Linked DNA regions of Homo sapiens. The protein of the gene in region 1 interacts with the protein of each later gene in a biochemical or structural test. Each region holds a gene or a part of one and is shown on either strand. Other genes may lie near its edges.

Region 1 (7,573 bases):
CAACCTTCTTATCTTTTTCGGGCTTTTCCTATCCTCTGTTTACCAGATGTATTATATCTGATCTGTAACTTCACACCATAGCTTCTTTGTAACTTTTCATGGTATTTGCCATATTCTGCTTTTTGGATCATAGATGATAATGTTTACTTACAAATTATTTGAATGGAAGCACATTGTATTATTTATCTTTGGAGAAAGAATCATTAAGTATGGTTTTTAATTGAGTTTACTCATTCAGTATTGCAGTGTTTCTCAATCAAGGGTGATTTTTGCATTCCCTGCCCCCAGCCCCGCCCTTCTCCCACCCAGAGAATATATGGCGATCTCTGTGGAAACCTTTTCAGTGGGTTTGAGGGTGTTGCGACTGGCATCTAGTGGGTAGAAGACAGAGATGCTGCAAAACATCCACAGTGCATAGGACAGTTCCCTACAGTAGAACATTATCTCGTCCAAAATGTGAATAGTACTGAGGTTGGGCGACCCTGAATTAGGTGAACAGTATCATTTACCTGATGTTTAGGCAATTCTAAATTTACTTTAGTACCTGCTACTTTTACTAATCAATTGTGAGGAGTCTTTTCAAAATAACAAGATAATTTGAAAATATTATTTCTGTCCTAGAATAACTTATTCTTAATATGATTTTCTTTTATTTTTTTCCCTTAGGCAAGTTTTTCAAATAATTGAGACTTTTCACATGTGATCTGTACTGAGATACATTTAAGTCAAAGAAAATACTATGCAAGTAACCTGTGACTAGGCATTTTATTTAGCAAAAGTATCAGTTAAATGTATGGTAATAATAGAATCACTGAGCTAAGGAAATAATGTGTGTTATAAAGAGAAGAAAGTTGCTTGCCGTTTTGTCATTTTATGAATGCATGTTGTTTGTGTTTGGTCCTGGAGGTGGGAGTGGTGATAGTTGGGTTCATTTTGCAGTCTATAAGGGACTATTTGGAAATTTCTCTCTTCTGTTTTAAAAAATTGTCAGTAGTAGACTGATCTAATTTTTGCAAATTAGCCACTTTGCACTTTTTAAATTTTTTAGCCAGTTTCTGGTTTTCCAGACTATTCTCATTCTAAGGACTTTAAAATGAGAAAAGAAATATTTTATATTTAGATAGGATTCTACTTTAATTTCATGATTTTTAAAAGCATTTTTTGCTTTATTTAATAAAGTAACTTCATATCTAGAAAACATTTAAGGTAGAATTTTATTATGTATTATTACCAAAACAAGAAAAATATTCTGAATTAAATATTGGACTAGGTATCATGTTTATGGAGAGAAAAAGAATGGAACATTTGTTAGCTCTGCTGACATAAGGATGAGGTATGTGTTATTCCACCATTTGCTAGCAGGCATGCTTTTGACACATTATTCTCTGTAAGCCTTTGTTCTTCAGTAAAATGCCTATGTCGTAAGTTTGGTGCAAGAAGTAAATGAGATGTATATATTTAAAGCACTTAGTGTAGTGTATGGCATATGGCATGTAGTTGCAACTAGAGCCTTTCTGTTTACTATTCTAATTGAGCAATTTTCATTATAAAAGACTTCCATTTTTAAATATATTTACAAAAATTAAATCAATTTAATCTCTATGATAGAATGTATGTTTTTTAAAGTTTTTATTTTTGTATTAATCATATGGTATAATTCATTAAATTAATAAATACTTTTCTTTTTCTGTTGTTAAAGATATCCTATATTTGAAAATCCCTACCCTTTGAGTATACATGAGTCCCCTGTTACATGTTGCGAATATTTTGCGGATTGTCCTGTGGACCTTATTCCTGCACTTTATTCTGTTGGAGCTAGACAGAAACGTCAAGGTTACAGCAAAAAGGTATTGAACATGAGCTTCAGTATTTAATGTTATATTTCTTATTTATTCTATATTTATCACCTTGGAGTATTTGATAACATTATACCTTTTCTATGGAAAATAGGTTAAAAATTATTTTTGCAAGCAAAATATGTTTTTCACTGGATTATTTACACACACACACACACACACACACACACGGAGGTATGTAGTATGCTTGCAAGTTGCTTTATACAGTCATCTTTTTTTATAGGAATGGCCCATCAACGGAGGTAATTGGGGCTTGGGTGCTCAAAGTTACCCAGAAATAATTATTACAGGGTAAGTAAAAGTCTGTCTTCACCAAGTAAATCTATAATAGCTAAATATAATTGATTGAGACTACATGAATGTTAACTTACTGGACAGGTAGAGCTTTCCTTTATGTCGTAATATAATAAGAAATGTTATTCTTAAGAACCTGCCAGTTTACCCTGATTTTTTTTACCTTTTTACTCATTTTGTTGACTTTTTAATAGCAGTACCCATTTAAAGAAGGAAGAACTGTAATTTTATTCATCACATTCTTAACATTGCTTTTCTTAGGCATGCTGATGGGTCAGTTAAGTTCTGGGATGCTTCTGCAAGTAAGTATTTTTAATATTCATTATTTGTTATATGTTATACAATCACTGCTTTTATGCATCCTGTTTTATAATAATTGCATAACCAATATTTAATTTGAAATGTAGAGGTTATAAATTTAATGCTTGATTTATTAAATACATGAGTTTAGAATTTTTAATATAGTCTTAATATTAGTAAATCAAGAATAATTGGCAACACAAGTATTCAATTTTATTTTTTCCTTCAAAATTTCTTCAAACCTTATCTTCCTAAGTCAGAGTTAGGGGAAGTGGGAATGTGTTCCAAATCAACAGAAATTTCTAGAATAATTTTAATGCCTGACTCTAAATTTGTATCACTAACGTTCATGTTGTCTTTGCGAAATAAATCTGGTGGTTACATAGTAGCAAAAAAAGAAATAATGCCTTTAATGATTAATGTTTCAAAACACACATGGCAAGCATTCAATTGGAATCCAGTTAACTCAGGATATGTTGTGTTTCCTCATGTAGGAATGTTTAATTATATTGGTACTGTATCTTTTCTAGAGAAGATACATAGAAAATCATTTTAGGAAGCAAACTGTGTTGTTTATTATTTTCATGTATTTACACATTATTTTTCCAAAATGTTTTTATTACTCATTTTTTTAAGATTACCTAAAATCCATTGTGATAATAGATTTTTCTTCATGAATACAATGAGCACACTCTTGTTTGGTCAATGAGAACAAAGAATATATTATCTAAATGTTTAATAGACTAACGTAAATTGAGAAATGAAAATATGATGTAGTTAAATATGGACCATTTTCTATACATAGTATGAGTGATTAAATGTTACCTTATGTTTGATCATTTTATATTAAAGTATCTGACATATATTATCTTTTTTCCAGTAACTCTACAAGTATTATATAAGCTAAAGACATCTAAAGTATTTGAAAAGTCAAGAAATAAAGATGACAGGCCAAACACAGACATTGTAGATGAAGATCCATATGCCATTCAGATCATCTCCTGGTGTCCAGAAAGTAGAATGCTGTGCATCGCTGGAGTTTCAGCTCATGTCATTATTTATAGATTCAGCAAGCAGGAAGTAATCACAGAAGTCATTCCGGTAATAACGTCTTAGTTATTTTCATGGTCAAGTTATTTTCATCCACATTTTTAAATTTGTGGATGATTTGGAAGACTTTTTGCAGTCAGTTTTGTGCAGAACTTTTGAAAACACCTTAGTATTTATATTATTATCTCTCTTTTGTAAAAAACAGCATTTTTTGCATATATTTTCACTGATTATTTAAATCCTTAAGTATAGGATATGTTTCCTTTAAGGAAAGCTAATATGAATATGAGTATACTCTAATTTGATATTAACACGAGTACCATACATTCTAAAATCATAATGCACGTTTGTGTGTGTACTCCCTGAGTCAAGAACGTTTTCTTTCTTGCTAAATCCTTATTTTTTGAAATCTTGCTAAATTTTTACCTTTAAAAATCTTCTTGCCACTGAAGTTTATGTAAAGTGTGTGTGTATGTGTGTATAAATTGTGATAAAATGAGCAATAATTATTAGGAGTAAGTAAACTACCTTACTTTTACAACAGATGCTTGAAGTTCGATTATTATATGAGATAAATGATGTGGAAACTCCGGAGGGTGAGCAGCCACCACCTTTGCCAACACCCGTGGGAGGGTCCAACCCTCAGCCCATCCCTCCTCAGTCTCATCCATCTACCAGTAGCAGTTCATCTGATGGGCTTCGTGATAATGTACCTTGTTTAAAGTAAGTTATAAAAAACTACAGAGGAGTTTTGGATATTATCTTTTAATTTATATAAATTGTAAGCATTAGAGCTATGGTAACATTTTCTTTTGATATAGCAAAATGGCATAAGAATGGTTCTTCCTGTGTTTTGCTATGGTTAGTCCAACTCATTTTTCTATGACATCAAGAGGAATATGATTGCATTTCATGATATTATCCTTAAAATATTAAGGTTTAATCTCCAAACATTCTCGTAAAGCAGCAAGGATCTAACCTGTATATATCGCTCAGTCTTCTAAATCCATCAGTGTTTTTAGTCTTGATTTATATGTAGCTTGGATTTATGTTCCGACTGCTTTCTACAACTCTGAAAATTCTGTTTAAGTCTTTTAAGACTCAGTTGTTTTCTAATCATTTTCTTTTTCTGAATCTTCACTAGCACCACCGTATCTTTATTTAAAACGTTTTATTGTTGCATCCTAAATTTAAATATATCTTGCTTTTATACAGAGATAAATTGGATGAAGTTTTATTTTTTCTGTCCAATTTTTATTATTGAGTGGTTAAAATGTTTAAATGATAGAGGCAGAGAAATAAAACAATGAGTAAGAAGTTAAAATCATTGAAAAAGTACATGAAGACTATGTGATTAATAGTATATTTACAAAGAATTCAACTAGGATAATGACGGAAAGGTGGTTCTGGTAGCACTCAGAGAGATTCAGTAGATTGGTAGAGGGCAAAAGCCAGAGTGTACTAGGTTCAAGGTAGAGAGGGTAGTAAGTAAGAGAAATAATTTGCATTTATTAAAAGGACCAGGCTTTGCACTATTTTACTTTAATCTGCTTGAGTCTCTTCTACTGGTAGATAAATAATTTCTGGGAAGAATGTCTGTGTAATGAATAATGCACTCACACCAAAGATAAAACGGATAGATTTTTTTTATATTACAATCATTTTAAAAATACAGAGTTTTAGAAAATTATATGTTTACAAAAATTGAAGGTCATGTAGTCTAAGCTGGTGGCTCTCATTTGCATATGATTTTGTTCCCTAGGGGACATTTGGAGATGCTTTTAGTAGACACAACATGAGGAAGGGAGATGCTATTGACACTTAGTGGGTAGAGGCCAGGGATAATGTTAAATATTCTACAATGGACAAGGCAGTGCACACAACAAAGAATTACCAGCTCAAAACATCAGTAGTGCCAAGGATGAGAACCTCTGATCCAAACAGTATATACCCATTGAGGTTAAGCAGCTACATTTCTCAGAAAGGTATCAAGTTTTTCTTTCTCTCCTCTCCCTCTCTCATACCTGTACTAGAATATACACACTTATAACTGTAGTTCTAGCACATGTTTTAACTAGAATGAGACTTGGGAATACAGAATTCTACACTTTTCCCCTTTATTACTTCTTCAATACTACTTTATACTTAAAATTGTAAATGTTCCGTTAATGCCCTTGTTTCTGATTTCAATGTTTTTTTCCCAAGCCCTTTGTTACATTTAATTTTTATGACATACGTAGTACAATTTGTCTTTGGGGCATTTTTTGTAACGTATTTCTATATTTCTGAAATAGTGTTTTCAACTACTGAAGTGACATTTTAACAAAATAACAATTCCATATAAACATACATTATCTTCAACAGAATTAGAATGATTTATTTAATTTGTACTTCATAATTTCTGATGCCTCCAAGTTTTTTAGGCTTGTGGCCAGAGATCCAGCAGTATAAAACATTAAATTCTTTTCCTACCTGAAGAAAAAACACCATCAATGCACTGCTTTCTCATGACAAGATAGGTCAGAGGAAATAGTACTGACAGGAGAAGCAGTACTGTTTGGACCAGAGTGACAAGACCTCTTACCTTGGCTTTCTAGGTTAAAGTTAAAGGCCAGCCTGATAGGTGAGTCTTTGTCCTCTGTTCTTAGAAAGGCCTTTTTTTTCCAGTTTTTTTACTGACTGAAAGAGCAAGGATAATAGTTAAGGCAGCAACCAGCAGCAGCTGTTAAAACCAGCAAACCAAAATGCAGAGTACAACAGTACCCAAATCCATTTTAAAGGTAATACTGACTTCGTTCTGCAATTATGAGTTTTCTTTATTGTTCATGGACCTGAGATTATGGTATGGCCATCTTTCTTGTTTGGGAGGACTTTTCATACTTGTGATGGAATGTTATGGCACACTATTAATCTTTTGTAATTATTTAATGGAATGTCACTTAATATAAGAATTCCTTTTAAGCTGCTGGTTAGTCCCAGTAGACAGAGAGTCTCATTAGCCAATCCATTAATGATACATGTGAGGAGAGTCCTTTTTGTTGTTGGCATTAATTGTTATCTTTTGTGTATGGATACACTTTGCCAATCCTGGGATATACACGCAATAACATCTTAACAGTTTTTTCTGAATCCTAAAATAACTAATGACTGTGATTTGATGGTTTTTTTTCCTTTTGAATATCACTGTGGAACTCTAGGTATTTTTTATAGGCAATTTGTTTTAACTTACTGAATTTAATCAACTTAACGTGATTTTGTCACAGTTTTCTAGAGGGAGCTTCTTTTAAGTTGGTGTTTGTGTCTTCTTAACACCACCTCAGAACTTTGTGACCATCCTTAATTTCTGTCAAGATGTTCTAGACTTGCTTTGAATACTACTTGCCCTCACAGGGTAACAGACCAAAATATGATCTTTAGAAATGTTTGTAACATTATTTTTAATAAGCAGTATATTGTTATAGTAGACCACCTGGTGACAAGAGCTAAAAAAAATGGGGGGGTTGTTTTTTAAAAAACAGTCATTAAAACTCTTTTATTTTTCATTGAGTTTTTACATTACTATATAATGTAAATAAATAATTTTAAATCTCTTACCCAAACCACTCTTCTCCTATAATTTGATTAGCCTGGAATTATTCCATTTAATATTATTTATCTGTTAACAAAAGTAAGTCCAAAATTGTAGTATTAAAATTACCACTGATAGTAAAACACTAGATGAATAGTAAAATATAACATGACAGCTGTCCTTTAGACCTTTGAGCATATGACAAGTGATTCATAAGGCAATTACATTGTTTTGAGTTACTTTAATAATTTTTCTTCTGTTTTGGTTTTTTGTAGACTAACCTCATGTATAATAAAACTTTATAACAACTAACCTCATGTATAATAAAACTTTATAAATTCATTTTATCTTGAGACTTAATATTTTAAGGGACAGTTCTTTTTGGAAGTAGCGTTTGGTGTCAGATAGAGGTAAACTGCCCTGTCAGTATGTTTTATAAAATGGATGGAACTTTGAAGCAGTTCAGACTTTAAAGACACACATAGGAGATTCAGCCAGAGTCCTG
Region 2 (7,573 bases), on another chromosome or scaffold:
CTTATTGCAACCTCTGCCTCCTGTGTTCAAGCGATTCTCCTGCCTCAGCCTCCTGAGTAGCTGGGATTATAGGTGTGTGCCACCACGCCCAGCTAATTTTTGTATTTTTAGTAGAGATGGGGTTTCACCTTGTTGGGCAGGCTGGTCTCAAACTTCTGACCTCGTGATCCGCCCACCTCAGCCTCCCAAAGTGCTGGGATTATAGGCTTGAACCACCACACCCGGCCATTGTTTTGTTTTAAAGGGAAGGATAGGCTGGCAATTCTTTTTGTTTTTTCCTTTAATGGAAACAGTCTCACTATGTTGTCTGGGCTGGTCTTGAGCTCCGGTACTCAAGAAATCCTCCTGCCTCGGCCTCCCAAAGTGCTGGGATTATAGGCATGAGCCACTGTGCCCGGCCTGAGCTGGCAATTTTTAAAGATAGAATAGCATCATGAATTTGGCCTGTGATCAGATTTTTTTTTCTACATATTTTGGAATGCTAAAATTCTGTGTTCTTTCCTAGTCTCTGGAAAGTACGAGGAGAATCCTGGGTTTAGCCATTGAGGTAAGAAAATGTTAGTCATCAACTTAAGTATAGAAATTTATAGGAGCGATCCTAATACTTCTGGCTGGAATTAGTATTAAAGGGTAATGTATCAATATGCTTTATTATTTGAAATTAACAGTTGCTGAAATGTCAAACCATGCACTAATGGGAATTTTCTGTTTTTCCCTTTAACAGTATTGGAATATGACAGGGAAGATGAATTCACTATGAGTTTGTGACTTAATTATTTTGGGGGCTGCTATGTTAAAGTGTGTTAGTTTAAGAATACTAGTTCTGTCTGTAGCTCTAATCCTCTGAGAGCTTGGGTTTCTAAATTATTCTGTGTTGCTCTTGTAGGTTTTGTTTCTGTTGTTTTTGGTTTGTTTTGTTGTACTATCAGCTTTTCCCCCCTTGTCTTAGTCTCAGGATGCAGGAATCAAGACCATCACTATGCTGGATGAACAAAAGGGTAAGTTAAATTATTAGCAGAAATTCTTAATTTGACTGTGATGCCAAAAAGCCCTATCAAATTAGCCACATACAAATTTCAGCCTTTGGGAGAGCCTTCCCTTTGTAAAATAAGAATGTTATGTTTACTTCTTGTCTTCTGATTTGAATTATATATCATGTTCACTGTCTATTTGGGATGGCAGGCAACAATGCCCAATTGTATATACCAAGTATGTGTTAGGCCAGCATGGCTTATTTTGTGTATTGGTTATATGTGCCTTAGACATTATGATAGTAACATAGCTGGGATTACAGGCACCTGCCACCACACCCAACTATGTTTTTCTTTTTTTTTGGGGTGGGGGACGGAGTTTCGCTATTTTTGTCTAGTTTTGGGGGTGGGGGATGAAGTTTCGCTCTTCTTGCCCAGGCTGGAGTGCAATGGCGTGATCTTGGCTCACTGCAACCTCCTCCTCCTGGGTTCAAGTGATTCTCCTGCCTCAGCTTCCTGAGTAGCTGAGATTACTGGTGCCCACCACCACACCCGGCTAAGTTTTTGTATTTTTAGTAGAGACGGGGTTTTACCATGTTGGCCAGGCTGGTCTCGAACTCCTAACCTCAGGTGATCCACCCGCCTTGACCTCCCAAAGTGCTGGGATTACAGGTGTGAGCCACCGTGCCGGGCCTTTTGTTTTGTTTTGTTTTGTTTTTTTAATTTTTATTTTTTGAGTCGGAGTCTTACTCTGTCACCCAGGCTCGAGTGCAGTGGTGCAATCGTGGCTTACTCCAGGATCCTCTACCTCCCACGTTCAAGTGATTCTCCTGGCTCAGCCTCCTGAGTTGCTGGGATTACAGGTGTCCACCACCACACCCAGCTAATTTTTTGTGTTTTTAGTAGAGATAGGGTTTCACCATGTTGGCCAGGTTGATGTCGAACTCTTGACTTCAAGAGTCACTTGATCCGCCCACGTCGGCCTCCCGAAGTGCTGGGATTATAGGCGTGAGCCACCGTGTCTGGCCAGACATTGTGATATTCTTACATCATCCTCAGAAATCAAGTTCTAAAACAGATCTAGATTCAGGTATGCTTGGAAACACTTGAGTTGAGTTGGCCCTGAGTAATCAGGTCTAGTTTTTATTACTCTTATAATAGCCCTCAGGTTTTGAACCTATTATAGAAATGATGGGGATTTGACCTCGTCAAAGTACCCTTAACTTGGTTGTAAGGATGATCTCTAAATAACCGTCCCTTGGTCCTACTATACAAGATTCTTTTTTTTTTTTTTTTTTTCGAGCGGGAGTCCCACTCTGTCATCCAGGCTGGAGTTCAGTGGTGCAATCGCAGCTCACTGCAACCTCCAACTGCCGGGTTCAAGCAATTCTCCTGCCTCAGCCTCCCAGGTAGCTAGGATTACGGCACCCATCACCACACCCAGCTAATTTTTGTATTTTTAGTAGAGATGGGGTTTCACCATGTTGGCCAGGCTGGTCTTGAATTCCTGACCTCAGGTCATCGCCCACCTCGGCCTCCCAAAGTGCTGGGATCACAGGCGTGAGCCACCATACCCAGCCATATACAAGCTTTTTAGAACAAATTTTTCCACAGCAAGAGGCTAGGTGCCTCCGGATCAGTACGTGAAAGATTGTTATCATGTTGAATCGCTTCTAATACCTTTTGACACTGACATACTCACTGTGGGGAGTTATTGGTAGATTCAAGGTTGAAGTTTGCTGTTCCATAATAATAGCATTTTCTGGTTGACACTGTGAATGGAACACAAAGTGTTAACTTCACAACTTATTCTTAGAACAACTAAACCGCATAGAAGAAGGCTTGGACCAAATAAATAAGGACATGAGAGAGACAGAGAAGACTTTAACAGAACTCAACAAATGCTGTGGCCTTTGTGTCTGCCCATGTAATAGGTGAGTTGATAAATTAAGATGGTTTCAAAATAAGTAATGAGAGTACCCCACCTTCTCCCACCAGCTAAGGTCAGAAGTATGACTGGGCTTAATGAGGAACTCTATTAGATAAATCTAAGTTGTCTCTCCTTCAGGCAGATTAAGCTTTTTGTGTAAATACTGCGTGTTCACTGAAAACTGTGACTTACATTTGACCAATCCTGGGATCAAGTCCAATTTCAATTTGTAGTAATACATGAAAAGGTTAGGAAGTATAGGGAAATGTATATCTGGATGATGGAAAGCAGGATGGAGTTATTTTCTTTTCCTTTCAAAGGAGGAGTATTAACAAAATATATATTTTGTGGTAGGCACATGAGGGATGGCCAAAAGAGTAGAAGAGTTGGGAAAGAATGGCAAAACATAAAAAATACATAAATCTAATGTTAGATTATATGATAGTGAGCAAGGCTAAATCTAATGTTAGATTATATGATAGTGACCAAGGCTAGGTATACAGAACTGATAAAGGTTGGGTTGGAGAGCATCTTATAGAAGAGGTAGGATGTGGATTGGGCTTTGAGTGATAAGAAGGATTTGGATGAACAGGGAGGAACAGTGAGGGCATTTCCTATGAAAGGTTCAAAATAAAGATTAACAAGGAGCTTGACTTAACTGAGCTGTGTGACTCATGTAGATGAGAAGTGGAAAGTAAGATATAAGTAGGTAGTAGAGGAACTTGAATGCCAAACTAAGGAGTTGACAGATTGGAGTGGAGTATAAAAAGAAACGACAGTATCTGGAGATTGAATGACTGTACTCACTGCTGAAAGTTTTGTTTTGTTTTTTTTCTGAGACAGGGTCTCTGTTACTGAGGCTGGAATGCAGTGGCGTGATCACAGCTCACTGCAGCCTCTCTTTCCTGGGCACAAGAGATCCTCCCACCTTGGCCTCCCAAAGTGCTAGGATTACAGGCATGAGCCACTGCACACAGCCAAAGTATCCTTTTTTTTTTGAGACGGAGTCTCACTCTGTTACCAGGCTGGAATGCAGTGGCGCAGTCTCAGCTCACTGCAACCTCCGTCTCCTGGGTTCAAGTGATTTCTCCTGCCTCAGCCTCCCGAGTAGCTGGGACTACAGGCGCATGCCACCACACCCAGCTAATTTTTGTATTTTTAGTAGAGACGGGGTTTCACTATGTTGGCCAGGATGGTCTTGATCTCTTGACCTCATGATCCGCCCGCCTTAACCTCCTCAAGTGCTGGGATTACAGGTGTGAGCCACCACACCCGGCCTCAATGTATTCATTTTTAAAGAGGTTCTTAGACATTAATATTTCATCCAGTTCTCAGCTGGTCTTGTAAACCAACAGCGGTTATATTTTTATATTTTCAGTAAGTGTTTTTATGAAACAACATTTTTATGCCATTTCTGTTATAGAAAGTAGAGATTAATTGCTTGTCAGTCAACTTTAGTGTTTGTTTTGGCCATGAGGAAAGGTTTGACAGTGTTCTTCCTAGTCTTATCCATTGGCTTCCTATTCTAACACAAGTCTGTTGACCTGTTTACACCTTGGTTGACCAACTGAAAGTTCTGTATTTTTTGAGACGGAGTCTCGCTCTGTCACCCAGGCTGGAGTGCAGTGGTGTGATCTCGGCTCACTGCAACTTCCACCTCACGGGTTCAAGTGATTCTCCTGCCTCAGCCTCCCAAGTAGCTGGGATTACAAATATGTGCCACCATACTCAGCTAATTTTTATATTTTTAGTAGAGACAGGGTTTCGCCGTGTTGGCCAGGCTGGTCTCAAACTCCTAACCTCAGGTGATCTGCCCGCCTCTGCCTCCCAAAGTGCGGGGATTACATGCGTGAGCCACTGCTCCCGGCCAAAAGTTCATATTTTAATAACTATGACTTGTCAATCAGAGTTTAGCAGATTACTTTAAGCAAACAAGTTAAAATGTACAGATTATTTGATACAAACTCTTAGCTATGTTTTACAAACATAATTGTACCTTTCTCTTGTGTTCCATGTACCTTCTTGGAAGAGTACAGAAGAGAGGAAGTAGATGAATTTTCTTGAGATCAGATGTTAGGAGAACAAGGAGAAAGAAGTCTCCCCTAAAATCTTAGAGGAAGATCAGCTCTAAGTCACGTGTTGATAAATAGGAAGAGCACTGAATTAGACCTAAGATGGTCTAATATCATAGAAAGTGGGAAATGCAGCTACAGAGTATTAATTTTATGTCTCTTTGTGTATCCCAGCCAAGCATAGGCAAGCTTTTCTTGAAGACTGGTGGGAAACAAGGTAGGGTATGGTCCTGAATCAGCATTCTTCAGCCTCTAACCTCAGTAGAACCCTTTCTCAGTGGATCAAGAGAAGGCATTACTTTTTTAGAGATGGCCTCTCCCTCTGTCTCCCGGGCTTGAATGCAGTGGTGCCACCATAGCTCACTGTAGCCTCAAACATCTGGGCTCAAGCAATCCACCCACATCAGCCTCCCAAGTAGCTAGGATTACAGGTGTGTGCCACCATGCCCAGCTAATTTTTGAAATTTTTTGTAGAGACAGGGGTCTTGCTATGTTGCCCAGGCTTGTATCAAACTCCTGGCCTCAAGAAATCCTCCCACTTCAGCCTCCCAAAGCACTGGGATTACAGGCTTAAGCCACTGCACCCAACTGGCACTTCTTTCTTTTTTTTTTTCTGGCACTTCTTGAGAGATGGAATCAAGGGGCTGCTGTAACAAAACAGTTCCCTTAAGAGAAGAAAGTATTATCTCAGTTAAAGATGTCTGATTGTAATTGTCTTTCTTCCACCTATTTCTTTCTTACACCATTGAGACCTTGGCCAGTATGATATCTCTTATCCTCAGCTCTGTTCCTATCATTCTTGCCTGTGTCTTGATCTTTCTAATCTGCTAGTCTGTGTTTCAGTTAGGCTCGTCACATGAATAACCATAACATGAGCTTCTTAAAGGTAGACATGAGATCTTAGTCCTATGTGTAAGGCCTAGTCTTCATACCAGCAGTAGCAGTAACAACCCAGGTCAGGTCCAGAGTTCCTTATTTGCCATTTGGAAATACTTTTTCTTTTCTTTCTCTTTTTTTTTTTTTTTTTTCTCGAGACAGGGTCTCGCTCTGTTACCCAGGCTGGAGTGCAGTGGCAGTCATGGCTCACTGCAGCCTCAACCTATCCTCCAGCGTCAGCCTCCTGAGTAGCTGGGATTACAGGCACATGCCACCACACCCAGCTAATTTTGTATCTTTTGTAGAGACAAGGTTTCACCATGTTGGCCAGGCTGGTCTTGAACCCTTGGGCTCAGGCAGTCTACCCACCTTGGCCTCCAGAAGTGCTGGGATTGCAGGCATGAGCCATTAAGCCCTGCTGGCCATTCAGAAATCTAAAAAACTCCTAAAGTTTTGTTTTATTTTTGCTGTAATGGTGCCACAACTCATTAGGGTATAAAATGTAACCTGAACTGAAGCTATGTTTAGTCTTTATTACTTGCTGTAGATATTAATTGGTTTCACTACAGAAATACTCTTTTTGAGTCAGGGTCTCACTCTGTCACCCAGGTTGGAGTACAGTGGTATGATCTTGGCTCACTGCAGCCTCGACCTCCTAGGTTCAAGTGATCCCCCCACCTCAGCCTCATGAGTAGCTGGGACTACAGGTGCATGTCACCATGCCTGGTTTGTTTTTAAAAACTTTTGTTTCTTCTTCTTTTTTTTTTTTTTTTTGAGACGGAGTCTCACTCTGTTGCCCAGGCTAGAGTGCAGTGATGCAGTCTCAGTTCACTGCAACCTCTGCCTCCTAGGTTCAACCGATTCTCCTGCCTCAGCCTCCCAAATAGCTGGGATTACTGGTGCCTGCCACCACGCCCAGCTAATTTTTGTATTTTTAGTAGAGATGGGGGTTCACCATGTTGGCCAGGCTGGTCTTGAACTCCTGACCTCAGGTGATCCGCCTGCCTCGGCCTCCCAAAGTGCTGGGATTACAAGCATGAGCCACCATGCCTGACCCTGTTTCTTTTCTTTTCTTTTTCTTTTTTTTTTTTGAGACAGAGTTTTACGTTGTCACCCAGACTGGAGTGCAGTGGTACAATCTCGGCTCACTGCAACCTTCGCTTCCTGGGTTCAATCGATTCTCATGCCTCAACCACCCAAGTAGCTGGGATTAGAGGCATGCACCAACACCTTGCTAACTAATGTATTTTTAGTAGAGACGGGGTTTTGCCATGTTGGCCAGGATGGTCTTGAACTCCTGACCTCAAGTGATCCACCCACCTCGGCCTCCCAACGTGCTGGGGTTACAGGCATGAGCCACCGTACCTGGACTTTAAAAAGTTTTTGTAGAGATGAGTTCTCACTATGTTGCTCAGGCTGGTCTCAAACTCCTAAGCTCAAGCAATCCTCCCACATTGGCCTCCCAAAGTGCTGGTATTACAGAAATGAGCCACCACACGCAACGTCACTACAGAAATATTAATGTATTTAATTATGTGGTACTGTCCAAAACATCTTGCCCCCAATGGATTGGGGTAACAGTTGTGGGCCTGTGCATTAATTTAAGGTACTATTCTGAACATGTTAATTTAATCCTTAAACAGTAGCCTTAATATGAGATAGATGTTTTTTATTATTATCATTTTACATCCAGGCTACACTATGTAGTGGAAGAGCTGGGATTC

The links. The genes of interacting proteins can lie anywhere in the genome.
Region 2: the proteins of STXBP5 (region 1) and SNAP23 form a complex in vitro, tested with the Homo sapiens proteins (one study listed by BioGRID).

What each region holds. Positions count from the first base shown.
Region 1 is NC_000006.12:147,312,185-147,319,757, forward strand, and holds part of STXBP5 (syntaxin-binding protein 5), read left to right. Parts: intron 1-1,699; coding exon 1,700-1,847; intron 1,848-2,079; coding exon 2,080-2,147; intron 2,148-2,411; coding exon 2,412-2,452; intron 2,453-3,330; coding exon 3,331-3,551; intron 3,552-4,044; coding exon 4,045-4,223; intron 4,224-7,573. UniProt on the Homo sapiens protein: Plays a regulatory role in calcium-dependent exocytosis and neurotransmitter release. Inhibits membrane fusion between transport vesicles and the plasma membrane.
Region 2 is NC_000015.10:42,512,450-42,520,022, forward strand, and holds part of SNAP23 (synaptosomal-associated protein 23), read left to right. Parts: intron 1-505; coding exon 506-547; intron 548-949; coding exon 950-998; intron 999-2,787; coding exon 2,788-2,905; intron 2,906-7,573. UniProt on the Homo sapiens protein: Essential component of the high affinity receptor for the general membrane fusion machinery and an important regulator of transport vesicle docking and fusion.